Regions from separate parts of the Homo sapiens genome. Here region 1 is linked to region 2. The links come from fine-mapping of genetic effects on gene expression. Tissue or cell type: whole blood. Region 2 holds a variant in brackets; the other region holds the start of a gene. All regions are shown on one strand. Distances are from middle to middle.

The links.
Region 1: SLC9A9 starts here. The variant in region 2 is fine-mapped to the expression of SLC9A9 in whole blood (GTEx, PIP above 0.99).

The regions. Positions count from the first base shown.
Region 1 is chr3:143,839,249-143,855,331 of GRCh38, reverse strand. It overlaps SLC9A9 (solute carrier family 9 member A9), which reads left to right and starts at 6,864. Exons shown (of 16, transcript NM_173653.4): 1 at 6,864-7,184. The coding sequence starts at 7,010.
Region 2 is chr3:143,807,782-143,823,864 of GRCh38, reverse strand. The region is part of intron 2 of SLC9A9 (solute carrier family 9 member A9); the gene reads left to right. Among named protein-coding and RNA genes, the nearest start is that of SLC9A9, 33 kb to the left of the region's middle. The variant T/G (reference allele first, on the strand shown) is at 8,970.

The DNA of each region.
Region 1 (16,083 bases), 31 kb before region 2:
CAAAAGGCAACCCTTCTTCCCCTCTATAGAGAGGTTGAGTACTTGGAAGTAGATTCTACTGTGCAGATAGATTTTACCCCAGCAAGTGTGTCTCAGAGTATGCTGTCCTCGGCTTTCCTGTAGATTTGAAGTGAGATGTGGGAAGCCTCTGGTCTAAGCCGCATTATCAAACAAAGTTCACCAAAAGCCTTACATTCTTGGTGTACCCTGTTCTTGTCAGCTGTCTATTTTGTGTGTATTCTCTTTTGGTTATCATGGTGGAAAGGAAAGGCCTGAGGTTTTGGCTATTGAATCTCTAACAGAACAATTTTGTTTTTCACTTAGAAATAAATCTAGTTTTAAGAGTAGATTTTGGTGGAATCCAATACTGTTTGAATCTTAAATTCCTGATAATTAATTGGTTCTGCTTTTTCCCATTTCAACAATTCTCAAGATTATAGTGTCATAAAGGACATGGCTTAAGTAAGAAGCTAGGAAGACATTTTTTGTTTTTTGTTTTTTTTTTTTACAGAAAGAATATTCCTTTAACATTTAAAAACTGTATGTTATTTATAGTCCCTCAATTTTGAAGCCCAAATACCCTGCTGAAAAACTTTTAAAATTACCCTTTTAGCAAGGATTCAAAAGGTAAGCAAATATTCATAATTCATAGTCTTTTTAGTGATTTTGTTGAGGAACCTGGGAATCTCGAAGAGCCTCTCCAACAGCTGCTAGAACACAATGTTTCTGTTACAGGTTTAATTGAGATTTATAGGTTCTGATTATATTCTGAGAAACAGTTCTTTTCCACACCTAGAGTTTAGAAATGACTGTCAGTTACTTAGATACTGGAGCTTCTGACTGGATAGTAGAAGTGTCATTATTTGTGAATTCATATTTATCCTAGCCAACAAAGAAACATTCTTGAAGCTACATATGATGTAACCAAAAAATTGTCATTGTATGCTCCATCTTTCTTTGTGAATTTATTTTTTTTCCCCACAGTAACGCAGGACATTTTTATAGAAATAAAATCACATTGTCCTATGACATCCATTAAAACCTGTTGGTCTGGATTTAAATGAATATGTAACCACCTGTTGTTGATTTAAAATTCATTTGTAGGAAGACCTTGGGTGATAGGGTGGGGCACAGTGTATGTGTTTGTGTGTGATACACCAAGTCACAGTCTTCAAAGAGTCTCAGAGTAGTTTTAAACTTTTAACTTAAAACTTTTACTTTAGATATAGTGTTAACATCAGAAAATTGTATTTCAAAGTAAATTGAATTTTCTCTGCACAGGTGACATGTAGTTTTAACTCTGCTGGCCATGGAACATGATTTACCTTCTTATCTAAGAGAACCATAGTGTTTGTCATAGAATTTATTATGTAATTTAGTTGGCTTAAGTGTAAATAAAATTCATCTTAGGTGCTACTTAAGGATTGCTTTGAGCATAGCTATAAATTATTAAAGTTTCAAAGTTCACAAACCATATACAGAATTGAATGAAATGAGGAATGAATGAGGCTTCAATGCAAATTAAAATTTTATTTTTGAAAAATGGTATTTTCTAGTCTTTGTGCAAACTTCTTCACTTGGGATTCCTTGGATCCTCTCCTAAATAAACTACCTGCAAGTCCTTGTCTCAAGGTCTGCTTTGAGGGAACTCACATAGAGACACCCTCTAACAAAGGCTGCCTCAAAGGCTAGATTTTGAATTGATATGGGAAAAACTAAGGGGTGAAACTATCCAAATCTGCTTGATTTTGACATACTTCATTTCAGAAAATATTTCCAAGCGTATTCAGCTTCTCCTAGTCTGGAGCTTTGTCTTCTCTCCTAAGTCTCTTTTTCTCTTTAGAGAAAAATGTAGAGATCCGGGAGAGGTGAGGGGCATGATGCCTTTCTTTGTTAGTTTTTACAAAAATTTTATAATTTAACACATAGTGTCTTTTAGCTAGTGAGGTCAGAATTATTACTTGGTGAGATACAGAGTAGCAGTTATATTCTAAGAAGAATGCAAATTTATCAAGTGGACACTTAATGGGAGATCAAAGAAATGAATTTTCTCAGCTCTTATTTCAGAAATTTTGTGCTAAAACAAGTTGCAGCATGGAATAGCATGTCTCCATCTTTTCCTTCTTGGCCTTGGCTCCAGAGCTCACTTCTTTTCACCCATGAAGTCTTTATCTTGGGTTAGGAGTAGGTTCCAGCCACTGTGATGAGCCCGCATTACCTCTGCCTTATGCAGAACCAGCAGAGACTGAATAAAACAAGAAGCCCGTGAGTGAATTTTTTTTCTCATGATGGGCCCTCCAAGATGTGCAAGACAGAAGAGGGGACCTATAGACTGAAGTTTATTATTTCTATTGAAGAGGTGTCCTTTCTAAAAGAAAAGAGATGATGTGCTGTGGACAGAAAGCTGAGGACAAAAGCAGGGGATTGCAGGAAACAGGGTGAAGAGGGCCTGAGTTGGGAATCAAGGGATTTGCATCTGGGACCCTCCTTATTCCCCAGGCTTCAGCTGTAAGATTGTCCCCCCTTTGATGACATAGGGATGACATGACTGGATCACAGGCATTGTGTCAGATTTGCTTCAACCTGGCTGTATACAGTTTTGGGACTCTTCAATGAAAAAAATACCTAAATAACATCCAGTACGCATTGGGTGGGCCAAGGCCAGCCAAATAGCCTCTAGTGCAGGTGGAAGAAGATTCCCCTTTTCTCTGGTCGTCACTGAGTGATGGACTTCTGAGCATCAAGAATCAACACAGAGATAACAGTTCACAGAGGGAAACAGTGAGGTCTGCACCCATTTTTCCCTCCTCAGAGAATGGCTGGAATGCACTTGTTGGGTAGAAGAAGGAAAGGATCCCCTATCCATGCCACACACATTTCTACACTTGCATTGTTAATAAAATGATTCAAATTCTCTAATTTAACTCGTTTTCAGTGATTTTTAATCTCACCTTCCCACTATAATGAAGAGCAGTGGAAAGAACATGGAGTTGGGGTCACATCCTGGGTTCATGGCCCTGGATCCCACAGACCAGACTTTGTAAAGGCTGAAGGAAAGAAACCAAGCATTGAACAGTGAATTTGGGGTGGGCTTAATATTGTCCAAGTGTTTACTATGGGATTTAATTACCCGTGAAATTTTTGAACTTTCATTTCTCTATGGAAATATACTAATGGGAGGGGTCCATATTATTCAAATTTAGGGGCAACTTATGCTAACATGTGACTTTTTTCAGGTGGGGACAGCTAAGATAGGTCTATGGTGAGCTTGAAAATAGGATAGGGGATGAATTTTGGGATGAGGACATCGTGTGGCTTTCAAGCAAACTTAATTACAGTCCTGTCCTGGCCCATTTCAGAAGCTTGGAGTAGGGTGGGGCAAAATATGAAACTTCCATTTCACTGGTCTCAGAGAGGGATAAATAGCAAGGGAAAGGCCACATGAATGAGACGGTGGAATTTTCCTATAACCCAGGGCCTGTGTTGTCTGAAGTATTCTCTGTTAACACTAGGGGCTGAGAGAGAACTAAGACTGGGCATTGTGGAGCTCCAGGGAGATGGAGAGGGGACTTCTCAGTATGTCTCCCTACCCAAAGCAAACTTAGCTTCTCGACACCCTGACCCCACAATCTTCAATGACCTCTTACAAGAATGAGGAGCTCTCAAGTGATTGGTTAGATTCTGTAAAGCTGATTGGATCCCATTCACTAATGGGTGAGATTACCGCACCATGCAAAGTTACACTGGCCTGGGAGGTTCCACTCTTCAGTTCTTTCTTTCATTGTGGCTGGATGGGCAAGCTGAGACAGGGCACACTGACTGCAACAGGCTGGGCCATCCTGTTCTTTCTCTTTGCTGCTTCTCACTTGCGTGTCGCATCTTGCAGTAGCCAGCAGGTATTAATATTGAGATTTAGGGACAGTCAAGAATTCCTCTTTGGTCCTTGTGCCTAAGTTTTGAGTCCATCCCAATTTTATCTGAGAACCTGGAACTAATGATCCTGGTTACCAGGTCACAAAACAGCATGTAATTTTTAACTGATATTGTTTCTTGTGTGAATATCTCCTTCAGGAATCTCATGAAAAATAGTGATTACTGACAGTACAGGATTTGAGAATTTGAGGAACTTTGGCTGTTAGAGTGACCAAGTTTGCTTGTTTGTCTGTGAGTGAGGGGGTTTCCTGGGACACACAACTTTCAGTAGTAAACCAGGAAAGTCCCTGATAAGCTAGGATGAGTTGATCACCCTGGCTGAAAAGCCATCTAAAGGCCAATACACCCCACATGCAATTTAACTCCTACTGGCTGTGTGACCTTGGCTATGTTGCCAAATCTCCCTGAGCCTTAAATTACTCACCAGGAGAAGGGTGAGTATTTTCTGCACATTAAATTAGACTAAGTTAAATTCCTTGGCATATTTTCTGGTCCATAGTAGACTCTCTATTGTTACATGTTTCCATTTTATTTTCTCACTTACGTTGGTACAGCAAAATAAAAAATGATATTCTAAAAAGAAAACACAAAATAGGAAGAATTGAATTCCTTTTCTGGATGGAGGAATTGGAGATGTTTCCTGAGCCCCTTTTCTTCAAGCTTTTCCCCCCAATGTGAAGCAGCATCAGGAATGAACAATGGAATAGTGAATGTACTCCATTCCTGGAATAAAGCAGGGGTCATACATTCAAACATCTGCAGGGGCCACACGGGGACCATGAATGAAAGAAGAGGGATGAATGGACTTGTGGCAAGCTGGTTGCAAATGCAGCAGGCAACCACTCAGCCCCAACAGATTGTGGCCATGTAAGAAGGGCCCAGTGTGCCAGATCTTACAAGTTTTTCTTGCAAAAAGCCATATGATTTTTTAAATGTTAAATATACTGATTTGAATGTGTTGACATCAAACCTAAAACTTTTTAAAAAGACGTGTAAGCCAATCAAAACATTCTATGGGCCATTAATCTTTTGTCAAGTTGCTTCATTGGTTAAAAGAGTGAAACTGGATGTCACGGATCAACCAGAGAATGTTTATTCTACTCAGATGGAATAATTGTGATAAAAGAAAACCAAAGTAATTCAATAATGACAAAAAACAAAAGGACAGGAAGTTTCTGAATTTGTGTTATCTTGTATATCTGACAACTCGACTGAACCTGTGGAGTTGCAAAATCATAAAGGTAGAACCTGCTAGCAAAGCTCCATGAAATGCTTGCAAGCATTAGCTGATAGGTTTCAAAACAGTATGAATATTAGTCATCACAGATATTCCTGCCAAAAAGGGTAGCGTGTCAGAAGAACATCTGCAGCACACATAAATACCCTCTGCTAAGTTAAACTCAGAGAGGAAATAAGCTTCCAAAGTTGCACAAAGCAAAGATGCTGAAACAGCAGAGCTTTGTATTAAGGGGTTGATAGACTTGCTCTCATGGTGAAACTGTTTGTTGAGGAGGTAGTTAGCTCCCAATAATATTACATGCTTGACCTTTAGCTTTTAGTGACAAAAATTGTTTCAGGACGCATTTGGGCTCAGCCTACTCAATAAGAAATCACATTGTATAAATTGAGCATTAATTGTGTCAAAATGGGGATCATAAGTGATTAATACTCCCAAATTACAATGATATGGTAAAATGAAAAAAAAAATCAGCTAACCCCAGGATATACCCAAATGTGTTATAGGATCAAGTGTTAAAAGCAAGCAGGTCATAATATTTGCTAAGAAAAAAGAAAGAAAAGGAAAAAAAAGCTGCAGAACCCATGGTATTATCTTGAACTATTTTAAAGTAGAAAAATATGAAATCAGACAGGAGCAACCTGCCACATGGAAGATGATCTGAAGAATCATCACTCTTATGATCAGAATCCTGTGAATACAGAGCTTTCATTTCTGGTGGCAGAACCATTTCTCAGTGAGCAACATTGTTTTGCCATAGGACAGAGGAGGTTGTGATCTATTGCAGATTTCTGTGGGTCCTGGATGCCGAGACCAGGAACCCTACAAAGAGAAATCCATGCATGTGGCGTTGCTGAGGATGGCTGCGTGAGTTTCTCTTTCGAAGTAATGTGTTTTGTTTTTTTTCTTTTTTGTCTCAACGTATCCAAACAGTACAGTTGTAGAGATGGGGATGGAATTTTATTTGTCTTTTGCTTTCATTGTTTTCTCTTGTTAAAAGAAAAACAATTGATTTAGAGTTTAAAGGCTGCTCTGCAACTATCAATTATATAAAGCCAAATAGAGTCATATACTAAATCCTTTCTTGCTTCTCAACTAAAAAAAAAAAAAAAAAATCCTGTGAAATCACTTTAGGTTTGCTTAACCAATGTACAGTCATGATTTGAGAGCATAAGAAACCCTATAAGAAACCCTATGCCTTAAGTGAATCCCATTGTGAGATACTTGAGCTATGAGGCGGAAGTTTCAGGCTAAGCAGTGTAATATCTTTTCAGGAGGCTAATATGCTGATCCATTTAGAGCACAGAGGCTGATTGATAACTGTGCTATCAATCCCCATCACTTTGGCAGGTCTTGGTTAGAGAGGAAAGATCTTGCATTTAGGTGAAGTTGAGTCAGGAATTGGCTTTTTGAACTTAGAAAACGTTGCTAGTGTAAGGCTACCTTTTTTATTATTAATCTACAGTTCATATTTATGCAGCTTAAGAAGACTTATTTGGAATAATAAGACCGTGATTCAAGATCTTAGCATCATTGCTTGCAGATTTGTCCAGTATGAAAGATATTTTCATGAGATGAATCACTTAAAGACATTAAGAGTCAGTGATGAAACCACACACTCTCGAGTTTGAAAAGAGACAGGGCTGCTTTAAGAGAGAAACAGGAAGTTGTAACTAGAAGCCATCTGAATACTAAGCCAGGGCAGAATGCTTGTGAAGTAGCAACTAAAGTGGCAGTGTTTCTTCTGAAATTCTCAGGCAGTCAGACTGTCTTAGGCAAATCTTGATAAAATAGCCTTTATCCAGGTTTTTATCTAAGGAATCCCAAGAAGACTGGGGAATGGAGAGACAGTCAAGGGTTATGTCAGAAAAGGATGAGTATCAGTTTCAACATCAGGGAGCGGTGGAGCTGCTTGTCTTCAATTTTTTGCTCATCCTTACCATTTTGACAATCTGGTTATTTAAAAATCATCGATTCCGCTTCTTGCATGAAACTGGAGGAGCAATGGTGTATGGTGAGTGCATAAATTGTGAGATTGATGTGAAACTTGTTGCTTGAGCGTAATTAGAGACTTGTGCTCAGATAGCAAAGTACCGAAACTGGAGAAAATGTGCTGATTGAAATGTCATTAGTTTGATGAAAGGTGCTGCAGCGTAACGAATGCTAATCTCTTTACAGACAAGCCGCCGAAATTTGCCATGTCACGAGAGCAAATGTCACAGTCATGTTCTCACACGGCACATAATGCAAGTCTGTTGACAGATGCGGGTCCATTGTCATGTGGGGAGTCGAGGGCGAGCTGTTTGTTTTTGTAATGATGTTGGGAAGTGATGGCTCTGCAGTCACAAAGAGCAGCCTTCTCTCACTGGCTGCACCGATGAACATTACGAAGTTCTAGAAAAAACATCACTTCAAAATGCCTGGAGTAATTCCTCTTATATCAACTAATTTCAAGAAGAAAACTTGCAGAAACTAACCCCACCCCTCTTAAGAGAATATTGTGTCCAAGTCCTTTTTATTTATACGAACAGTGTCTTATTTTCTTATAATAAAAAGTTATAAATAAACGAGAGTTTCTTTATGCAGTACTTTTTACTTCTTAGCCTGATTTCAGATGTTCTAATTTATAATGATCATTGCTAGTGTTATTTGTTATGTATCTCCTATTTATGTATTGGAGGCCAAGGTGTGGAAAAATATTTAACACCTGCAGTATTGCTCTTTCTGGGCAACTTACCGTATCATTCCTTTCAGAAAGTTTAATAAAGTCTGACAGAGATTATCTGTCTGTACTCTCATCTTTTAAAGTAAAATGAAAGACACCAGTTTTTACTGGTGTTACTGATGAAATAGTTTACTTCACTGCTCTTATCTCAGCCTGATAATGGATAGGAAGTTTGAACACAATGGCAACAGGCAAGGCATTGCTATAATTTATAGCAAATAACATACTTTTATATTTGGGGTTTCCTCATTTTGGAAATCCTGAAACCCTTTCCTAAGCCTGAGATTCAGGGTACAGATCAATGCACATTGTATATGCTAATCCTGTGGTGTCCTGATATTAACAGTGTATAGTTGTGATTTCAGAACCTAAGGAATCCTAAGCCTTAAGTGGATCCCACTGTGAGATACTTGAGCTATAAGGCGGAAGTTTCAGGCTCAGGAGGCTGATATGCTGATCCATTCAGAGCACAGAGTTAAATTCCTTGGTACTGAGGGTCTTTTAAAAATTTTTTGCTTGGGAGTGGGGAGGGACAGCATTAGGAGATATACCTGATGTTAAATGACGAGTTAATGGGTGCAGCACACCAACATGGCACATGTATACATATGTAACTAACCTGCACGTTGTGCACATGTACCCTAAAACTTAAAGTATAATTAAAAAAAGAAAAAAAACATAACCCAAATGCAAAAAAAAAAAAAACCTTTTTTTGCTGTATTGTTTTATTTATTTTTTAAAATTTAGTGGAGACAGGGTCTCACTATGTTGCCCAGGCTGGTCTCCAACTCCTGGCCTAAAGAGATCCACTGACCTTGGCCTCCCAAAATGCTGGCATTACGGGCATGAGCCACCATTCCCAGCCAGTATTGAGGGTCTTAACGGGCACAAGAAAACTCTCATTTAAGAGAAAAAAAAAATCACAATCAGGTGGGAGAGAAATAGCCAAACAAAAAGGAGGGGATGCCATCAGATGTGAAGCCCTAGGTTCCTGTCATTTGCCTATCTCCATCATGAACAGAATTTTTCTCTTGACTTGACTAATAAGTAATCTGCAAGGATATGGAATAGAATCTGAGAAGCCAGAAACAATGTAATTCTTGATATCATATTAAAGGGACATATGTGCTTTAGCAAAACTACCCAGATTTAATAGATTGCCAACCTTTATTAGAGGGAAAGATTTCTTCACATCCCTGAATTTGATTGAACTATGACTCATTTACCAAGTTCAATGGTGGGGATATTGTTTTCGTAAAAGTTTTGATAACCTACTAAAATTCAGTCATGTTTTGCATTCACAATACATACAGTAACTCTTACTTTTGAATCTGAAAAATTCCAGGTTACCTTTAATCCTGCAAAACTCTCTGAAATATTTTTAAATTGTGCTTGAAATAATAAAATAGTAGTTCATTGACCACTGCTATTGAGGTAGCATTTCTCTAAATTGCTGTTCTTAAGGCAGATAAAGGCTTAAAGTTTATGAGTGGAATTAAGTTGGGTTCTCTGATTCCTATTCTTCTTTCATGAGTTTTTTAAAGTAAAAGTTATTGAAAGCAAATTCTGAACCAGTGCAATGTAAAAGGATTATAAAAATTATGGAGATATGCATATATATGTATTCTCTTACTAGAAATTTTGAGTATCTTTCAGTTATCTTGAACTATATAGATCAATGAAAAGACATATTTTAGTGATGTTTAACTTTTTCTTGGCATAGAATCATAATTGTTAGGATGTCAAAGAATTTTAGAGGTTATCTTCTCTATCCCCTTTATTTTAGAGAGGCAGAAGCTGAATCCCAGAGAAGTGAAGGGACTTTCCAAAACTGAATAGCCACTCATGACTGGTCCATGTGCTTTCACTCATCTGCATGTCTTACTAAGGTTCACGTTCACCTGAAAGAACTCTCCCTGTGTTTTCTGAAAGTACTCCATATGGGTGGCATTCATGACTTGTCACATTTCTTCTTCAGGGATGTCCTAAATGTTATATCTTAAATGCTTATTAGGAACTTTCTATCAGTAATGTAATAAAATAGTCTGAAACTACACCAGAGGAACATGATGGGATACTGTAGTAAACACTTTTTAATGATAGGGGAAAGGAGATGCCAAGTGAATTAATTGTCCAACAGCTATAAATGAACTTGGAATCATAGATGGGGAAGGAGCCTTAAAGATCATAAATCCAGCATTCTCATTTTGCAGACAAACAAATGAAGACTTAGAGAGATAAAAGTCGTGTAATTAGTTAGCTGTTGAGGTGGGATTCAACCTCCATCTCTTTAATAAGAGATGCTAAGATATTTAAAAATAAGTAAATTATTGCAATAATTTTCCTGGAGAAAGGATGTGTCTGTGGGATCTAGATGCATCCTCATATGGTTAAGCTTTCAGGATTAGCCAGATTCTCTTTTCCAGGAGGTCTAAAAGAGTGAATTTTCAGCATCCCACATTGTACTATCCCCCTTTCCATTAAAGGATTAAACTCTTAGCTTTTGCAAGAGCAGGGGGGCATGGTGATAACTAATGGGGAAGAAAAGAAACAAAACTATGTTTAAAACTTAAGCTTTTTGAGCTATGATTGTGCCACTTCACTCCAGCCTTCACTCGAGCCTAGGTGACAGAGTGAGACTGTGTCAGAAAGAAAGAAAGAAAGAAAGAAAGAAAGAAAGAAAGAAAGAAAGAAAGAAAGAAAGAAAGAAAGAAAGAAAGAAAGAGAAAGAAAGTTAAACTTTTAAAATTTCTTGTTCTTAAGGAAGTGAACATTTGAGAGTAGACTGTAACAGTCATCTCCGTGCTACAGACACATATGCTTGTAATGAAATATATTTTAAGATTTAGTGGACCTGCACCTAATGCTTATCAATGAATTTGGCTAGCAACTCCCCTACTCCACCGAGTACTGTTCTTGCTCTCACTATTTGTATAATGTATTACTTGTCCTGTATCAAGAATGATAAATGTTTTTCCCCAGCATCAAATTTCCTATAATACTTCAGCCTATTCTGCCATCTGCTTTTCTGCCAGTATTCCTTTGACATGTGTCAAATGTTCTTTAGAAGACTCGATAGATGTTGAGTCTATTTTATCAATGTACCTGAGAGTCCAATTTAAAAATTCTAGAGAACAGGGGCTTAGAAAACAAGCAGTTTAAAAAATGCAGAGAAAAGTGATCAAGCAGAATGTTTAATGTTCTTTTATATTTCTTGTTAGAAATAATTTTCAAGTTGCTAATCTTAAAATATCATATGAACACTTGTAGAGACCAAGAAAAATTGTGTGGCATTTGGCTAGACTCTGTGTCAATCAGAGATTCATATGATACTCCAAATAGTATAAATAATCCATTATATAAAAAATAGGTTTTTCTTATTATTAAGGGTCATAGGAAGCTTATAAAAATTAGTGGCAGCTTTATAACCATATTTTTGCTTCACCAGGAACAGTAATGGGTAATCTATTATGATATTCGATGGTTCTCATTTCAAAATTGAAGGATTAGAATCCATAACTGGTTTAAAATATAAGCCATAATGATACTCATTTAAATTGGACTGGAAGCATAAATGACAATTAGCGGTTAAAGTATTGATTGACAGCAGCTGGTGCACTTAGTACCACTCACTTAGGGCCTGTATCCCCTGTTCAGTGCTCATAAAAGAAATTTGCTCCTTGCTCCCTGACAGCATTAAGAATTCCATTATATATCACTGGGGGCTGCCATACTTTACAGGACATTTATAATCCTGTGCATTTGAGGGCTGGGATCTGAGCTTAGGGACAGAGCAATTTAAACCTCTTAGAATTCTGCCTTTGACTTCCTGGCCTTCCCATAGAAGTTAGTCTGAATTCATGTAAAAATTGTGGCCACTGTTTAGTGGGCACATAACAAATTTCAAGGCACTAAGTTTACATTTTGAATTCATTAAACTATATCATATTAAAGCGTTTTCAGATTCTTTAAGAATGTGCTTAACAGTTAAGTAGGACAAATTTAATTCACTCAACACCAAGTTTTTCAAGATTTAAAGAAAATACAGTTACATAGTGAATCATCAAGGATTGAAAAATTATCTTTTCTGAAAAATCTTCTGCAGGCATTAATTTCTTCCTAGCACTCCCTGCAGGTTCCTCAGGATTAAATTGGGTTGTTGGACATGTTGGCTACACCCTCCTGATCCATTTTACCCTCCTCCAGGACAGCCCAGCCTCCCTGACTGCCAGGCCTATGGGAGATGCTTCCTACTACTTCACCCCCTTCCCGCTGGCTGAAGGTCCTTCCAAGGCTCTACTTATTCCACTGTGGCTTTTTTTATAGAGAAAATATTGATGTGCTCCCCTGGAGATTTAAGTTTCTTAATCTTGATGATTTTTTTTTCAGTAGCTAGATGCATTATTTTGGGCAAGTGATGTTACATCTGGCCTTATTTTTCTCATCTATAAAATGGGGAAGAAAGGAACAGATATCACATGTCTCCCTTCCAGCTGCAAAAGTCCTTCAAAATTCAGGCCAAGACTGAGTTCAACCATCAGGCATCTTTCAGCCACTCCAGCCCAAACCAGAAGCTTTCCTTCCAGAACATGGCAGCCTATAATGATATCCAGTCTGTTCTCTCAGACAAGATTTTAGTTAGTGTTATTTCAGCACTGTTAGTACTTCCTGCTTCTGCTCTGATTTTGCAAGGAGTGCTCAGTAAATTCTGTTGAATTCCTGTCAGAAAGGTGAGGAGAACAAGTTAATAGTGAGGACTGGCTATGTATTCCACAGTTTGCAGAAGCATTTTTTATGAAAACAAGAGTAGCTCTGGTTTAATTTTAAGGGATCTGCAGGAAAGGTAATCACGGTTAGGAGCCCAGCATACTAAACTTCTTCTCCCTTTTGGTGTAAAAAACTTGATTTTTAAGGAACTTCAGAGAGTTGTACAATGTTTTCCATGTGTTAATACATTTGCCAGAGACAGGGAAAATAATGGAAGAATGAAAGTCATACTGCACTCTGTATGTTTTTTTATGTTTTTGGGGGTTTTTGTTTGTTTGTTTGCTTTTTTGAGACGGAGTCTCGCTCTGTCACCCAGGCTAGAGTACAGTGGCACAATCTCGGCTCACTGCCACCTCCGCCTCCCAGGTTCACGCCATTCTCCTGCCTCAGCCTCCTGAGTAGTTGGGACTACAGGCGCCCACCACCACGCCTGGCTAACTTTTTTGTGTTTTTAGTAGAGATGGGGTTTCACTGTGTTAGCCAGGATGGTCTTGATCTCCTGACCTCGTGATCTGCCTGCCTCAGCCTCCCAAAGTGCTGGGATTACAGGCGTGAGCCACCGCGCCCGGCCTGCACTCTGTATGTTTTTAAAAGTTGATTTTAAGAAAATAGCCGGGCCAGGCATGATGGCTCACTCCTGTAATCCCAGCACTTTGGGAGGCCGAGGCAAGTGGATCACCTGAGGTCAGGAGTTCGAGAGCAGCCTGACCAACATGATGAAACTCTGTCTTTACTAAAAAATACAAAAATTAGCCAGGTATAGTGGCGGATGCCTGTAATCCGAGCTACTCGGGAGGCCGAGGCAGGAGAATTGCTTGAACTCAGGATGCGGAGGTTGCAGTGAGCCGAGATTGCACCACTGCACTCCAACCTAGGTGACGGGAAGACTGTATCAAAAAAGAAAAATAAAGAAAAGAGCCTCTATATTTTGGATAAGTAAACTAAATAAATGAATAAACTATATTCTGAATCTCAAAGAAGCTATAGATGAAACTTTACTGCAAACTACTGTGGTGCCTCGAAGGACTCCCCCCTCAGTGTTTGAAAGGCTAATGAATGTGCATATCAAGAAAATAGATTTATGATTCAAATTATTTATGTAGATATCATATACCATCTACATTGAATTAATGTTACATAGTTAATGAAGTGGGGATATGGAGAGCTGATGTTTGTTAAACATCTATTATGTCAAAAAGTTGATATACAAAAATAAAAATAGCTAACACAAATAGCATTCCTGATATAAACTATGCTATTATAAGCACTTTACATATATTAACGCATTTAATCCTCACAACAACCATTTTTTAGGTAGGAAAACTGAGGTAATAAAACATTAAGTAACTTGCCTGAAGTTGCACATGTACTAAATGCCAGGGCTAGGTCTCAAACCTTAGCAGTTTGGCTTCATGTGGTCATCTGCTATCTTAAACGTAGGTGTGTTTGTGTGTGTGTGTGCGTGTGTGTATGTGTAGGGGGTGTGTTATCATTTTCATATTACAGATAAGGAAACCAACACTGAGAGAGAGAAGGTAACTTGCTGATAATCAACAGGGCTGTACTCAACTTCAGGACTATATAACCTCTGTTCTTTCACCTCTATCGCTTATGTAGTCCTAGAATAATTGCTGTTTTTTAATTAACTGTTCGCTCCGTGCCAGATGATGGTACCTTAGGAAGTTTACAGAAGAGAGGTAGAGATTGAGATATGTAACTATATGCATTATCACTAATCCTCACAACAACCATGCTAAATAGGCAAGATCATCTTTAGTTTGCATATAAGGAAACAGAAACTCAGAAAACTTATGACTTAACCAACTCTGCCCAGAATAATTGGCAAGAACACTCTTTTGAAAGCGTGCACTCTCAAATTCTGGCTGCAGTCGTTCTCTCATCCAAGTCTGCTCTTGATATGCAACTGTCCCATGAAGTCAGGGTAGGGAATGATTGAAGGTAAAAGTAGTTAAGTTTCTTCTCTACCTTGAAGCCTCTGAAATGTTCCACTGTCTATAGCAAAAAGCCCACTGTGGGAAACAGAATGGGGGCAAAACTATGAAAATACATCCATATTAAGTAGCTGGAGTTGAAATATTCCAAGCCTACCTGGAAACATTGTCCCAGCTTGAGGGATAGTCATGTTGCAAGTTCATGGTCTTTCTGGTTTTAAATGCCTATGGTTGAAACAATGGGTGGGACAGGTACTATAAATAGTTTGAGAAGGGACTGTGAATTTATATGAATCATGCAAAATAGGCTTTCATCATATGTTAGTTAAACTGAATTTAATTTTTGGAAGATACTGAAGGTAGAACCATTAACTATGCTTCTGGGTTTTCCAAGTTCTGAAATCTGTGTGCATGAGCCCAAGATGGTATGGGTTTTGATGGAATTTCAAGACTGTGAGGACTTATGTTGGTAGGAACTACTATCTTATATGACAATGCTTCTCAGTGTGTTTCCTGACCAGCACCATCAGCAGCTTGTTAGAAATGCAAATATGTAGTTCACAGCCCAGACCTAGGGAATCAGAAACTCTGGGGTGGGTGCGGCCCGGTAAACTGTGTTTTAACAAACTTTCCAGGAGGTTCTGATGCACTGAAGTTTGAGAAATACTTTGCTAGGAAAATAAACTTGAAATATAGTGCCTAGTTTCATTTCCTCTGTTTTCTCTTATTTCTTTCTTATCCCATTACTCTCCTATGGTGAAAGGGGGAGGGTTGGAAGACCATCTCCCTTTACTAAAGAGTCCTTCTTTCACCGTCTATAACACTTTGTAATGTCTCCATCTCTGGTTCGAGAAAAAAATAAAGTGTGTTGTATAAACATTACAAAGTAAGAAACCATTTGTTTATTCAGTATACGTCTAGTTAGACATCTCTATTTCTATGTTTCTTCTGTCAACTTCCTAAGATGATTGCAAGGAAGGATGTTAGCTATATATAAGCTGATGGCTGAGATAGTTTCTAAAGAAAAGTTATCTATTATACTGTTAGAAATCCCAGAGTTTTGTGAAGTGTGTACATTGTGTATATGTGTATGTGTTGTGTTTGTATGTGCTTGCATGTGTGTTGTGTCTATGTATGTGCATGTATGTTTACATATGTGCTATATGTGTGTGCATGTGTGCGCTTGTGATGTGTGTGTGTGTGTGTGTGTGTGTGTATGTGTGTTGTTTGTTGGGAACCAAGGATGGATTGTGGACATTAGACACCCCACTCTGATGGAGGATCTGATGTTTGGGACTTTCTGGCAGTTTTCATATGACTCTATCCTGTGAGAAGAGGGAAACTTTGAACAAGGCATCACAAGGTTAATTAGCTTCATGGACTACTTTCCACTTTGGAATTTAATGAGGTTCTCTTAATTGGCAGGTGTCCCAGACCTGTTCTGAAATCATTCTGGGACTCTTCACCAA
Region 2 (16,083 bases):
TGTCCTTTGCACACCAAAATCATCCTTTCCATTCTCTAAGATATGGACACCTCATCTTAGAGAACAATATAATATCTTATATTTTATTAAAATTTTATTTTTATTGTAACTATTAAATATTTTTGATAACATCTACCTTTAAAAATTCCACTCTTTTCTGAAATCTTTTTTAATGTTTAATTTTTAATTTATTTTTTAATTTTTTTATTTTTTATTTTTGTGGGTACATAGTAGGTATATATATTTATGGGTTACATAAAATGTTTTGATACAGGCATGCAATGTGAAATAATCACATAATGGAGAATGGGAAAGCCATCCCCTCAAGCATTTATCCTTTGTGTCTTTTCTGAAATCTTAAATTCTGTATTCTGAGTCTTGCGGCACCAGTATGTGCATGGGCTGTTGGCCTGACATGAGGATGTTCTTAGGGGCTGATTACCTCTGGGAGAACACTCATCTTCACCCCGAATGTCCCCATGCTACTCTACTACAGTATCCAGGTCTTTTGTCTCATAGGTCTGCAGTCTCATAGCTCCACCTGACATTCCCCCACTGCATTTTAGCTGAGTTGTAAGTTAATATTTACTTCTATAATGTTTTGATTCATGTCTGTCTTCTCAATGTCACTTGTCTACAGTCTCACTAGACTGTGGGCTCCAGGAGGGCAGAGACTAGGTCTGTTTAGTGGTCACATTCATTCCATGATTCCTGGCAAATGGTGAATTCTCTGTGGATCTTGATAAATGAATGGATGATGTAACCAGGTATCTATCATTCTCTGCTTGTCAGTAGCTCCTTTTTACTGCTACTCTGTCCTGTCTTAATTGCTGGCTATTTTGTAACCAAGCATCTAACCTCAGATTTCTCCTCAGGGTGAATTATGTGTGCTCTGTGATGGTTGTTTACTACTCAGAGGACTGAACTGCTAAAAAGTCTGCTCTCCAAATAATTGCGTAGGGATGGAAGGAGGCAGAGAGAGATTCAAGGCAGGGAGAGAGGGAGAGAAAAGGAGCCTGAGCAAAGAACAGAAAACAGAGAGAGAGTGGAAGGGAAAAAAGAGATTTCCCATTGTACTTTAAGTCTGAGTAAATAATATTTACAATGGATCTTTCAATTCTTTTCCCCATTGCTTTGTTCCTTCTAAAATATTAAACTGTGGCAAGAGTGCACATTTATCATTGCTGGTCTCCAGCGAGTAGTTATTTAAAGTTCCACCCAGCTGCATTTCCCTGTTCTCTCCTGAGGTCATTAGGAAGCTCCTGTTTAGTAACAGATACAGCCTGAGGTAGGCTCCACAGACAGCTGGGCACAGGAGGGGAGGGGACCTAACGAAGCTGCACATTCAGCTGGTTGTCTCTTGTTGCCTTTTAAGCTTGCCTGGAGTTATGGAGTCTCCCAGCTGCTCCCTTCACATCCATTTCTGATCACAGGACTAAGTGGGCTCTGATTTATCGAGTTCTGCCCCAGGTTGGGGTGTGTGGAGCAAGAATGTCCTGCAAATTCGAGTGGTCTTCATCTTTCTTTCTAACTGTCATATGATGGGTTCCCAGAAAAGTGGTGGACCCTCAGGTAGTGTGTAGTGAGCAGGAAGTTCATCAAGTGCCCTTGAGATTGACACCTTTCAGTAGAAGAGGAAGGAAGCCTGAGTGGGTAGAGAGAGAAATGAAGCTGAGATGCAGGCCCAACAATTGTGGCTGCCTCCTTGGGAAGCTGTGGAGCTAGAATGAGCCCTCAGAGTCATTCTCAGTTGGATTCAGAAGGCTAGGCCTCTAAAACACCAAATTGCTCTGTTCTTTGATGTGGGTCACTCTGGAAAGTGCATGACGTTGGGTGAGGTGCTTCTCTGCAGTCTTGGCAATCCCTAAAGGGACTGACAGCGCTTGCTGCAGCAAGGACAACACAGCCTTCATTGAAGGGGAGTCAGAGTGGCACAGCACAGTGCCGGGCACACTGACCCCCGCATAGGCTGGGAAGCTTTGTCTAGATTTTAAACCTGAGAACAGTACCTAGATGATGAGTTAACACATAGTTGGAGTAAAATGACTGCAGTGGAGTGCTGGAGCAGGCTTGTCCCAGCTTTTGAGAACTGATTATTAAATATTCAACAACTTTGTGAGCCTGTTGAAAACTTGAAATGGGCCATAATAGGAGTATTTATACCACAGAAATTGGCAAAAGGTACAAATCAGGGCTTGTGAGGTTTTGTTTTTGTTTTTCTCCAGAAAGATGGTTTACAAGCCCATCACTAAATACAGGCTTACCTAATTTCATTTTTAGGAGAATTGGAAATATCTAAACACTTCATTTTTCACGTCCCCAAAAAGTCCTTTCCTACTTGACAATTGTCTTGAAATTTTACTGTTAGAGCATCACATTTTCAGCTCAAACTCTGCCTCTAAGATCACATGGCGAAGTGCATAAAGTTCTATGATTAGATCTAATTGAATCTCATCTCTGAGATGAGATTTACCTTTGGTGGGTTAATTTCTCTGAGCATATTTTAGAGAGTTACTTTCAGAACTAAAGAGAAAAGTTATGTTTAAAGTTAGGCAAGTTATAAATATTAGTCTACTTCCTTTTCTCCTTCCATAACATCTGCCCTTAATGGGCATGGATTTCCCCTTGGAGTAAGAAGTCTGAGGAGCGTGTGATGGAGAAAGATTGGTGTTGCTTTTTATTGTACCATTTAAAGTGGTGCTTAAATGCATTTAAAAATATGCACCAATTTAATTTTAAATCATGCTTTCTGCTGATTTCAGCACACACAGCTTCCTGCTCACCCCAGTCCCCTCAAGGGTGCCTGCTGTGACTGTGGTCCTTGCTGACTCAGCCCTTCCCAGTCCAGCTTCCCCAGGCCAGTTGCTCCCTGGTGAGGTCATGTGATGGGGGAAGCTGCATACACACCTCAAAGCTAAGGTCTGAAAAAGATAATGCAAACTCAAAAAAAAAAAAAATAAGACAAAGAAAGACTAGGATTGAGATGCTCCTGTATATTCTGAAGTGATAGAAAGCAGTTTCTTTTGCCTGTAATAAAAAAAATAGCCAATATTAAGATCTATTCTAGATTGGAAAAAAGAAAGAAATCATTGTTGATGTGCAAAGTTTTAATTGTTTTGGATGCATGGCTCGTGACTCCTGAGGAATGAGTAGCTCTTGGTGAGACGCAGGACCAGGCTCTTCTCACTTGCACCTGTTATTTTCTCTTCTCCTGCTGGTATCATGTCAGTCTTAGACTGAAGTCACATGATTATGTCAATACCACAGCTAGTGAGGGGTAGTAGGGCAACCCCCACATGAATGGCAGGCCCACAAGGGACCAGCAGCAGCCAATCCAAGTGTGCAGAAAATGAGAAGGCCTGGAGTTTGGGCATCTAGGTCCAGGGGTAGGAAACCCAGGATGTACGATATTGACCTTAGCAAAAAGTCACAAAGATAGCAAAGGTGAGTTTGTGCATCAAGAATCTTACGCAAAACATAGAAGAGTTTCTAGCCATTGGTGGTTTGTTGCCATGGCAATGATCTAGAAAACTTAGTTGTCCTTGATGTATTTGCATTCAATGAGAACAAATTCAGCAGCTGAGTGGGTGACCTGAACCCACTTATGAGTAGGAGATGGGATATTGAAGTTAAAAGGCCAATCTCTAGAGCCATATAACTTGGATCAAATGCCACTTACAAGCTGTGTGATCTTAGGTGAGATAATTAACCATCCTATGCTTCAAATTCCTAACTACTTTGTAGGACTATTGTGAATTGCAAATGAGAAAATTCATGTGAAGCACTTAGAATAGTGTCTGGCTCATAGTAAGTGCTCAAAGTATATTAAGTGTTACTTGCTATTGTTGTTATCAACAAAGCAATGGACTTGCAATTAGAAGCTATGATTTGAGTCGAGGCCTTGGCTATTTACAAGGTAGGTGACTTAAGGCAAGTAACATGCCTTGTAAATAGCTAAGGCCTTAACTCTGAGCCTTGGTTCCACCTCTGTAAAAATGAGGTGTGCACAAATACTTAACTCAAAGGGTGTTGTAAAGAAATAAATGAGACACTGTGTATGAAGGAAACTTTAAAACTGTAACAGCCTTATGGAAAGTTTGTTTTTAATTACTTACTATTATGACTAATTGGCAAATAGTAAATGTACCAGGTTATATGTGAGGAAGTCAAATCCTAAACTTCAGCCCCACCCAAATTATAATAATGACAGTGTATTTTCTTTTCCATGGAAATTTTTTTTTTATTTACAAAGGCTTCTCCTGTTGCATTGTCCATTCAATCTCACCATTATTCCATAAGACAAACAAATATGACCCACGCTACAGAGGAGGAACCAAAGTTCTGGAAGCTTAAGTGACTTGGTCAAGTTTGATTTACAACAGAACTACAATTAGGACCAGGGCTTCTGACTCCAAGTTCAATGTCCTTTCTACAACTCCATGCTGCCAAGTTAAATGTTTAGAATTATGTAGATGTTTTGGTCTTAATTCACCACTTAATTTTGCCTGGAGTCATAGGCACTACCTACCTCCAGTGAAATAACAGTGTTTCTATCTGTCAATTTTGTATGTATAATGTTCACAATGGGACATTTCTAACTTCTAGCATTTTAAAGACTTGAAAAGTAATTATAGCTTTATGGTATTCTAGTCTCACAAATTCTCAATGATAACTTGTTATTTTTCTCTACATTGTTCTCCCTTCACTGTTTCTCTGTAATTTAGTTTTGCTTCTCTGAATTTCAATGAAAATGTATATATTTCAGTGATCCTCCTTTTTTTTGAGACAGAGTTTCACTCTTGTTGCCCAGGCTGGAGTGCAACGGTGCGATCTTGGCTCACTGCAACCTCCACCTCCCGGGTTCAAGCGATTCCCTACCTCAGCCTCCTGAGTAGCTGGGATTACAGGCATGCACAACCATGCCCAGCTAATTTTTTGTATTTTTAGTAGAGACAGAGTTTCTCTATGTTGGTCAGGCTGGTCTTGAACTCCCAACCTCAGGTGATCCACCCACCTCGGCCTCCCAAAATGCTGGGATTACAGGCATGAGCCACCGCGCCTGGCCGATCCTCCAGTTTTTAACCGTTAACATTCATAATACTAAGTTTTCTAGTTGGAGGGATTTGCTGCCGACTTCCAGTAATTTTTGAAAAGTGAAAAAACTCAATAGGTTTGGACATTCAATGAGGGCTTATTGCTCACCTGCCTGATTCTGTATTAGTCCTTTTCAGATATTTTACCACACTTAAAAATCATGGCCAGGCATGCAGTGGCTCACACCTGTAATCCCAGCACTTTGGGAGGCTGAGGCCGGTGGATCACTTGAGGTCAGGAGTTCATGACGAGCCTGGCCAACATGGTGAAACCCAGTCTCTACTGAAAATACAAAAATCAGCTGGGCGTGGCGGTGCATCCCTGTAATTCCAGCTACTCAGGAGGCTGAGGTAAGAGAATAATTTGATGCCGGGAGGTGGAGGCTGCAGTGAGCTGAGATTGAGACATTGAACTCCAGCCTGGGCAACAGAGCAAGACTCTGTTTCAAAAAATATATATATATAACAAGTCTGAGTCCCCAGTTCTTAACTTTTTCTTATCTTCCATTTTTCAGCTTTTATTATCCCTTGATCTTTAAAAGATAATTTAAAAAATATATGTGATTTTCATTACTGATTCCATTACACTTGTAGAATAACTTCATAAATGGTAACTTTACAAGATATTCATTTAGAGTGACAAGAAAGTATTTTATCTGAAATAATTAAAATAATCCCACAATATTATGCAACCACTATAAATTTTGGTAAATTTCCAGTCATTTACATATTTTTTTTTCTGTGTAGCTTAAATCAGATGGTCTCTAAAGCTTTGTAACTTGCTTTACTTACTTATTATCATAACCTAAGCCTTCTGTCAGACTTTTAAAAATTAACTGTAATGGATAGAAATGTGCTTGATTTTTTAGTTGTTTCTAAATTTTCACTAATATAAATAATGCTTCAGTGAATACCTATCTGTATAAAGCTTTTCCTGTATTTTGAAACATTAAATAGGCTATCAGATAACAGATATAAAATATTTGTTAGAGTAAATGTCTTCTGGGTCTTTGAAAAAGCACTGGAAAATGGCAGAAGAGCCAACTGAAATAAATGGGAAAAGGATTAATTACCAAATACCTATGAATTTTCCTAGGACAATTGGCTATCAATATGGAAGAAAAAGAATTAGATCCCTATCTCACATCTTATCACAAATAAATCCGAGATGGATTAGAGACTTAAGTAAGAATCAAACTATATAACTTTAGGAGAAAATATATTTATGACATCAGGATAGGAAAATATTTTTTAAAGATATCACCAAAAGCACAAATAATAATATAAAAATGGAATAAATTTTACTACAATAAAATAAACTTTTGGCCGGGCGCGGTGGCTCACGCCTGTAATCCCAGCACTTTGGGAGGCCGAGGCGGGTGGATCATGAGGTCAGGAGATCGAGACCATCCTGGCTAACAAGGTGAAACCCCGTCTCTACTAAAAATACAAAAAATTAGCCGGGCGCGGTGGCGGGCGCCTGTAGTCCCAGCTACTCGGGAGGCTGAGGCAGGAGAATGGCGTGAACCTGGGAAGCGGAGCTTGCAGTGAGCCGAGATTGCACCACTGCAGTCCGCAGTCCGGCCTGGGCGACAGAGCGAGACTCCGTCTCAAAAAAAAAAAAAATAAAAAAAAAAATAAACTTTTGCATGAAAAAGACACCATCAACAAAGTTAAAAGTCAAAGTCTAAAAGCTTAAGGAGATCATGAGAATAGAAGAAAGTATTTGAAATCTAAATAACCAAAGCAGAATAGTAACCAGATTACATTAAGAACTAATCAATAAGAAAAACTAATACTGAGTAAAAGAGATCAGAAAATTCACTAAAGAGATACCACAAAGGCCAATAAATGAGGAGTGTATGTTCTTTTAATTAGTAATGAAAAACTTTAAGATAATGATCATGTGATATCATTTCATGCTTACCAGATTGCCAAAAATTAGAAATTTGTCAATACTAAGTATTGGCTAAAATCTGGGGAAATACTCTTACACTTTACTATGGGAGTGTAAATTGGGTAGCCCCTCTAATTTGGTGATACCTACTAAAGTTGAAGGTTTATATACCTCATACCCCAGCAGGCCCACTTCTAGGTATTTTTCACTTCTGGAGAAACTCTCACATGTATACACAGACTTAAGTACAAGAATATACATTGCAGCATTTTTAGTAATGGTAACAAGAGAAGGGAAAAAAATCAAATCATGATATGTTCATCCCATAGAACATTACACAGCAGTTTAAGTGAATGGATGAGATCACTTGTATATTAATATACATAAATCTCAAAAACTATGTTGAATGTGAAAGGCAAGAGGATGCCTTTTATATTCAATAAACGTAAAACGGTATTTAGGATACAATTTTAAAACATACAAATATACAAAAGTATTTTAAAATTAGGTGGTTGTGGTGGTATGCACCTGGGGTCCTAGCTACTTGGGAGGCTTAGATGGAAAGATCACTTGAGCCCACGAGTTCAAGGTTACAGTGAGCTATGACCACACCACTGTACTCCAGCCTGGGCAACAAAGCAAGACCCTGTCTCGAATATAATAAAGTAAAAATATACAAGCAATACTAACTATGGTTTACGACTACACATATATGAAATACATAAATACAGTAATGGAAGGAAAGGGCACTGACTTCAGGGCATTGATTATTTCTGGGGCTGGGTGAGAAGAGGAGAAACTTCAACTCTAGCATATCATTTAAAACTTGTTTGAGGTGAAGTCAAGCACATACATAAAATAAGAGAAAAACATCTCTGGTTTAGATTTCCAAGCTTGGTGCTGCCTCTGAACAAATTTGACCTTGCACATGTCTCTCGATCTCTCTGGAGGATTATATTAGGTCAGGTTTTTGTTTTGTTGTTTTTGTTTGTTTGTTTGTTTGTTTTTTTGAGATGGAATCTTGCTCTGTCACCAGGCTGGAGTGCAGTGGCACGATCCCGGCTCACTGTAACCTCCACCTCCCAGGTTCAAGCGATTCTCCTGTCTCAGCCTCCTGAATAGCTGGGACTACAGATGCACACCACCATGCCCAGCTAATTTTTTTGTATTTTTAGTAGAGACAGGATTTCACCATGTTGGCCAGGATGGTCTCCATCTCTTGACCTCGTGATCCGTCCACCTCAGCCTCCCAAAGAGCTGGGATTACAGGTGTGAGCCACTGCGCCCGGCGGATATTAGGTCAGGGTTTTAAACCTTTTTTTTTTTTTAAAATAGCAAAAAGCCCTTCATTCAAAGAAAATCTAACAAAAAAGGGGCTTCACAGTGTGTCAAACAGGTGAAGTCAAAACTGCTAAGACAGGAAGGAGGGGGCAATAGTCCCCACTTTCCATTACTGCCACGCTTCTCCCCAACTAGTGGCCTCTAAGGCAGCTTCTCCCTTTGATGGCCTAACTGTCAATGGCACTAAGCTGTTAGTCTGACCCATTTCTTTGACAAGTGCCTGCCATGTACAAGGGCTCTTTGGTAAACACCTGGAGAAATGGAAGAGTGCTTTTTTAATTTTTTTACTATGAAAACCATCCCCTAATTTGGCCAGTCCACAGATTTGAATGTCTTTGAGTAAAATTTCTCCCCATTTTAAAAGCATTAATTTATTAATTTTGCTGCTCTTATCACTTCTTTAATTTTTTTAACTTAGCACATCTTCATTATTTTGGCCCTTACCACTCTGTTTCCTGATGTCCTCTCCTGCCTCCTTCCTTCCCTTTTGTGGCCTTTGTCCTTTTATTCTCCCTCTCCTTTGTTCCTCCTGTTCATCCAAGAGCCATTTATCAGATTCCTGAAAAAGCCACTGCTCAGCCTGCCCTGTGAAAGGCCCAGAGCCCACTGTTCCTACCTTGCCATCACTCATTTTTTCC[T/G]TAACCTCCTGTACCCACTTCTTGGTGTAAGGCAGTCAGAAATGATCAAAAACCACTTCCTAATTATGAAACCCAAAGGATTTCCCCTTGGTCCTTAAACTCCTTTTTTCAGCAGCTGACATCAGAGTAGGGAAGGTAGAGTCGGCTCCTCCCCAGCCATTCTCTCAGCCAGGTCCACTTTTGGGGTTTGCCTTCTTACATCTCTTTCTGTTTATTGAATTTCAGATACATAGTCAATGACTGGGGAAAATTATGTCTCAAATGCAATATTACGAAATTATTCTGAAAAAGTGATGTTTATCCGAAGTTTCAATTTCACTCAGCATCCTGTGTTTGGATTGCTAAACCTGGCAGCCCTGCATGAAGGAGTGGCAGCTCCTTCTCATCCTCCACCTCTCTCTGGCTTTCTGCAGCCCTGGGTTTCATTCTCCTCCTCTCTCTGATTGTTGTCTCTCTCCCTGGTAGGGCCACTGCATCCCCTTCCAGCATTCTGTCCTTGATCCTTGGCTCTTTTTTGTGGCACTCATTTCCCAGATACCCCATCTATGCTCATCAACTCATTTTTTCCATACTGATGATTCTGGATCATTTCTCCTTGGCCCTGACTTTGCCACCAGGCACATATTTCTGAGTGACGTACAGGCACCTCCAACTTAGTGAGCAGAAGCCTCCATGAGCCCTCAGCCTTTCTGACCCCTCTTACTCCTGCTGAGTCAGCTCCTCCTCAGCCATATTCTCTCAGTCACTCACCCAGGTGCAGAAACATAGGTTCCTTATGGAGTTTTCTATTTTTACCTCTATTTTACCCACAAACCCTGCTAGTCCTCCCTGCCATATGCCTGGCTTATTTTAAGGAAACACATGTTGAGTGAATGGATGTCTCCTGGTCTTGTTTCTTTCTTTCCATTCTATCGCAACCACCTTCATTCCCACTATCATTACCTTGAGCTCATTCTGGTAACTGCAGCCTGGCAATGGTTTCCCTTCATCCAGGACAATCTTGAGGTCTCTGCAAACTAATCTGCACAGACATCTTCTTTAAAAATGTATATATTTTTGACTAGGTAATACATTCACATGGCCTGATGTTCAAAAGGTACAAAAGAGTATATGAGAATCTTGAAGGGTTAATTCATTGTCTCTTTTGCCTACCTCATGTTGTAGCCAGCGGATAAATAGATACAGGAATCAGAAAGATGGAGAGCAAAAACTATGCAAAATAATGGGGCTTGGTCTGCGGGCTGCCTTGCTCACCTTTACACCAGAATTAGAAAGACTTACACACCCAGAGAGACCCAACTGGACAGAATTGGCCTCCATGCTGGGCTCTGCTCTTACAAAGTTTGGGAGCGGGAGGAAGAGAGAGGGGATTCACTCATCAAGCAGGCTAATTCCAATGTGAACAGAGGAGGAGGCTGAGAGGTACACACTTAATTCCTCTTCTCCAATTCACCAATCAGACTAGTCACTCTCTATTCCCTAAAAGGGGGTGAATTAAAGTTGGGATCAGGATCAGGGGGTTAAAGCCTTTCCAGTACTCCCCGGCTGGTGTGTTAATGGATCACAGGTGTGTCACGAGATATGGATCTTTTCATCCTTGGACCGAGGATAAGCAGAGCCCCAGACTTGTCTTCAGCCATGAGCACCTTCATCAGAACCCTAATTTCCTTCCAATTTAGCCTCATTGACCCAATATTATCATTTTCTGTTTGTATCATATTGGGGAAAATTCTGGCATGTACTGCTCTAAGCAGTGGTCACCTCTGTATTTACAGATATGAAACCAGCACCGAGAAGGTCACCCCTAGTCCCTTACTCGGTACACAGAAAATTCTTATGCCAAATGCCCTTCTTCCTGCCACCAAGTTCTCCCCTGTCTTCCCCAAAGCAACCAATAGTTACTCTTTCTATACACAGGTAAATATTTCATGTCCTTCTTTAAAAAAATACAACACAAATCACAACATATGCCAAATGCTTTAATAAAATACCATCACATCTCAGCGGCTTAATGTAGTAAATGTTTATTTCTTGTGCATGTCTCAATCCAGTGTGGCTTTTTAGGTCAATGATGGGGCACTGGGTTCCTCTCCTGGAGCCATTAATGGCTCTGACTTCCTTTAATCTAGTCTCTCTGTTAGTCTCTAGGGATTCATAACCGCTGCCGAATGCTCTACATAAGCTGAAAAAGGAAGGAAGGAGAGAAAGCATGGAAAATCTGGGGGATTTTTAGGGACTAGGAAGTGATAAATATTATTTCCGTCCATATTCAGTTGGCCTGAACTCAGTCATATGGTCCCACCTGACTACAAGGAAATGTAGTCTACATGTCTGACCAGGACAAAAAGGAAATGGGTGTTGTGAGGCCATAGAGATTTCTGTTACACATGCCAGACATGCCATTCTGCACCTTGCTCTTTTGACTTGACAATACATTTTTGAGCACAGCCACATTATTTCATAGGCGAGCAGTTTCCTCAGCTTTTTTAACAGGCGCGTTTTATGAATTATATCATAATTTATTTAACTAGTCCATGGTCCAATCATCCTCAATGATTTGTTTTTTCTATTATTTCATCTGCAATAAATACTCTTGTAATTATATTATTCCACACATGTGCAAGCATATCTGCAGGATAAATTCTCCGGTGAGGTGTTGCTGAATCAAATGGTATCAACAGTTAACATTTTGATAGCTATTACCAAATTACCCTTCTTAGGAGTAATACAAAGTATATTTCCAGTAGCCATTTTATTATTTAATTCTGCTTGTGTAAAATAGCTCAACAGGTTTGAGTAAACATAGTTTAAATCCAGTGGATCTGAGAGAGGCCCACAATCTTGGTTGTATCCTCCTGTTGGACTTTACCTTCCCCTCTATTCCTTAGGAACCCAACGTTGTCTATTTCTGTTCCCCAGGTGTTCCTTGTGCCTCATATTCTCAAACCATTGCTTCAATATTTTATTTCATTTAGATTCAGATCTAGTGAACACTTCTTGTTTTTCTTTTCTTTTTCTTTTTTTTTTTTCTTTTTAGACAAGATCTCTCTCTGTCACCCAGCCTGGAGTGTGGTGATGCAATCCTGGCTCACTGCAACCTCTGCCTCCCGGGTTCATGCGATTCTCGTGCCTTAGACTCCAGAGTAGCTGGGATTACAGGCGTGTGCCACTGTGCGTGGCTAATTTTTTTGTTTTTTTGTTTTTGTTTTTTAACTGGAGACCATTTTTTGCCATGTTGGCTGGGCTGGTCTCAAACTCCTGGCCTCAAATGATCCACCCACGTCGGCCTCCCAAAGTACTGGGATTATAGGTGTGAGCCACTGTGCCGGGCCAGTGAACACTTCTTGAAAAATAGGGCTGGGTACCAAGCAGAACCCTTTAAATTCATTATTACATATAATCCTCAGAAGCAACTCTAGGAAGCAGGCATTTTCATGCCCATAGTACGAATAAGGAAACTGAGGCTCAGAGAGGTTAAGTAAATAGACCAAGGTCATCTAACTACTAGGTGGTATATTTTCATTAGGTATTCTGAGAGTATTCTTTTTTCTCTCACTCTGGTGCTTCTCAAACCAAAGCATAACTTAAGGCAGAGGAAAAGAAATGCACACACTTGAGCTGTCCCTAGGTGTGACCCAAAGCTGCCTGAGCCATGATGTTTCCTTTGAAGTCTCCTATTTGTATTAAAAACAGATACAGATTTTTAGTTTCACTTTTTCATATATCTGCATTTATTTTAATATTTTAAATTCCTTGCTACCAACTGTAACTGAAACCCCAGGAAGCTACCGGTGTTCTCTGTGGTTTGGGGAACTCTGGTCCACTGCCCCCGGGGGAGGCAGGAGAGCATGGTTCTGCATGTCAATGCCCCACAAATAGACTCTTACCCATTCTTCAAAATCCAACTCATATGCTGCTTCAACATCAAAATTTCCTGGGGGATCAGCAAGCCCAGAATGGTGTCCCTGTCATAGAAAACTCTGAATTACAGCTTATCCCAGCACCTTAGATGCAATTATACAGCGTCTTCCCTTTCTTGGACTATAACCTTCATGGAGTCAGTCTCTCTATAATATATCTTCAAGTGCTTCGCAGCAAAAAGAGGGTTGTTAAATTTCTAATGAATAAAGCATTGAAGATGATTAACACATTATTGTTAACCACTTAAAAAAAAATCAGCAATTGCAAAACAGCAAGAGCCTACTTCTTAGTTCCAACTTCTCTTAAACACTCCTAAATCTTGCTTAAAATGGTTATGTTAGCCTCATGTTTCCTTGGAAAGCACACATTTCATTTGCCCATGCATATATATCCAATTCCCAGTGATAGTCCTGTCTTATTGATTGACCCTGGGTAAGCCATTAATTTATTCTCCTGTCTCTGGAAAATGGGGATAATTGCATTTGCCAGCTACCACTTGAGAATGTTGTCAGAATTGATGAAACAATGTTTTTAAAAGACCTCTTTGGAAGGAATGTACTACATAAATCACAATCCCTCACTAGGATGGTTGTTTTAGTGATTATTTATTTAGTAGTTCAGTGGAACACTGATATTTCTTCCCAGATAAGTCATATTGAGTCAATGGATTCCTTAATACTCAGACCCAAACAGAATTTTATATCTGTAACCTTCTGATGAACTTGGAAATTAACTTGGTACATATCCTTTCCACTCTGGGAAGTGTTCAAGTTGATTATCTCTGTAAATATATGTCTGGGCCATTGCTAGCCAAATACTGGTGCACATATGAGATAATATTTAAAATTTGCTGCATCCTCGTGAACATATTGATATTTTTCTCTCTCCCATTTTATCTTTAAGAATTGAATTTTAATATTTAAAAATCTCACTGTTTTCATAAGACATACGTAATGTTTCCATCTCAGAGTTGGAGGTCTGTTGCTCCAAATTAGTCACACCTTTTGTAGTATGACAGAACATCTAAAAAGGAAATAGTATAAATTTTAAATTCTAGTAACCATCTATAAATGTACTCTCCAATTGCCACTAGCTACCAGTGTTAAAATTAAAAATTCAGTCCCTCAGTTGCACTAGCTACTGTTCAAGTGTTCAATGGCTCATGTGGCTAGTGGCCACCATATTGTATAGTACAAGGAAAGAACATTTCCACCATCACAAAAAGTTCTATTAGGCAGTGCTTGTCCATAAGATTTGTATCTTAAAAGACTAATGAAAGGCTTAAGCGGGAACATTTTTAGCTTTCTGCTCTTCTCACCCATCCCTCGCTTGGATTTTTTCTCCTCATGTTACAATAATTTCTTTTTAACTGTTTGGGCCTTAAAAACAGCCCCACCTCCAAGGCCACGATTTGAACACAAAGTCTGGGGAGAATGACATGTGGAATTCCCATCTGGAGGTTAGTACAGCAGCAGATCCAGCCATTTCTGAGAAATTGTCTGGGTTTGGAGTTACTCCCAGAACTCTGATTTAGCAGTTCGTAAGCTTACAGCAAGTCTGAAAAGAACACAAATCTGTTTTGTATACACAAATAAATCCTTGCATGCTGCATGCCATTCTCAGCCTGCCAGTTTCATCTGGCTGCTCCAGAAAATATAATTCAATAGGATATTAGTTAACCTGCATGCAGGGAATGGGGCATTTTCATTATTGAAATGTTCTGGTTGAGTGATTAACCCGATTTTTGCAGAAAAACTGCTGAGGCAAGGGATTTTCTGTCCAGGAGGTTGTACCACTGTGTTTCTCTCTTCCAGATGATCACAGCTGCACTGCTTCATCCCTCAAGCATTCAGAAATACATCTCTATGCTAAAAACTTTCAAATATGCATTGATATATTCTCAAAGAAGCCTCATAAAAATAGATCAATAATGGTGTTCCTGATACTCTTAGAAAGGGAACAAACTTAAATGAAAAATTAAGATCTTTCCTCAAATTTTGCACAGTTGTGTAACCTTTAGGAGTTTCTGACAATAGGCAGTTTCTTCAAATGCTATGATTTGAAAATATTCGTTCAAATATTTTATTTTCTTTTGTAATAAATAAAATGTGCTTACTAGATGTCAGGCAATGCTTTGAGGGCTTTACAAATATTAATTCATTTAATTCTTATAACCATCTTAGAATTAGGTACCACACTATTATGTCCATTGTAAAGATGAGAAAACTGAAGGACAGAGAGGTTAAATAGCTGTCCAAGTCAAGGAGCTTAGGATGTGAACCCAGGAAATTTGGCTCTGAGTGTCCATGCCCTTAAACACTACTCCAAATAGTTTATATAACAGAAGGAACCTAGATCATGAAATAAAATGATTTGTTTTTCTCCTCAGTGCCTCAGTTTTCATATATTAAAAGCCAGAGGTCAGTGAGGTAAAAACAGAATCAAAACATTGGTGCTTCTCTTCAAAAGATAATTACAAGCCAAGCTTTGTACACCAAAAGTCAAATGTACTAAGAGCCCAGAATCAATTATAAAATACAAAACCTAGTAGAATTAGATTGATTTTCTGAAAATAAATTAATGTAATACATTGGTTTTAAATATAGGATGAGCAGATCATCGTTTTCAGCTTCTGAGTTGATTGTGGCAGTCCAAAAAGCTTTTTTACTCAGGTTTCTGAATGAGCAAGTATAACAAAAGAAATGGCTGGAGTTTAATCATGTCTGATTCATAAATGTAAGTAAAACAATTTTTCTAGACATGTGGAATATGTGCTAGTGAGAGGAAACCAACGTTTGATGAGCAGCTATGATTTAGCAGGCATTTGACCTTAGGCTTTCTTACTACCTAAGCAAAAAACCTAGAAGTGATTTCTCCCTTTCCTGTTACCCTCAACACCTAACTTGTTGACTGCTCATTCTGCCTCCCCAGTATACTTGGGTACTGCCTTCTCTCCCCAACTCCCGGCCACCATCCTCTCTCACCGGGATTCTGCAGAAGCCACCCAAGTGACTTTCTTAAAGCATCGAGATGGTCTCTCATCCCCGCCCAGCCCTCTACCGGCACCTTCTCCATTTGGGATCACCTCCCAGCACTGCCCAATTCCACCTGGGTCTTCTTCAACCCCATCTGCCCATGCTATGGCCTTTGCCCACTCCACCCAGCCCCTCTGGCCTTTGGGTTTCTGAACACA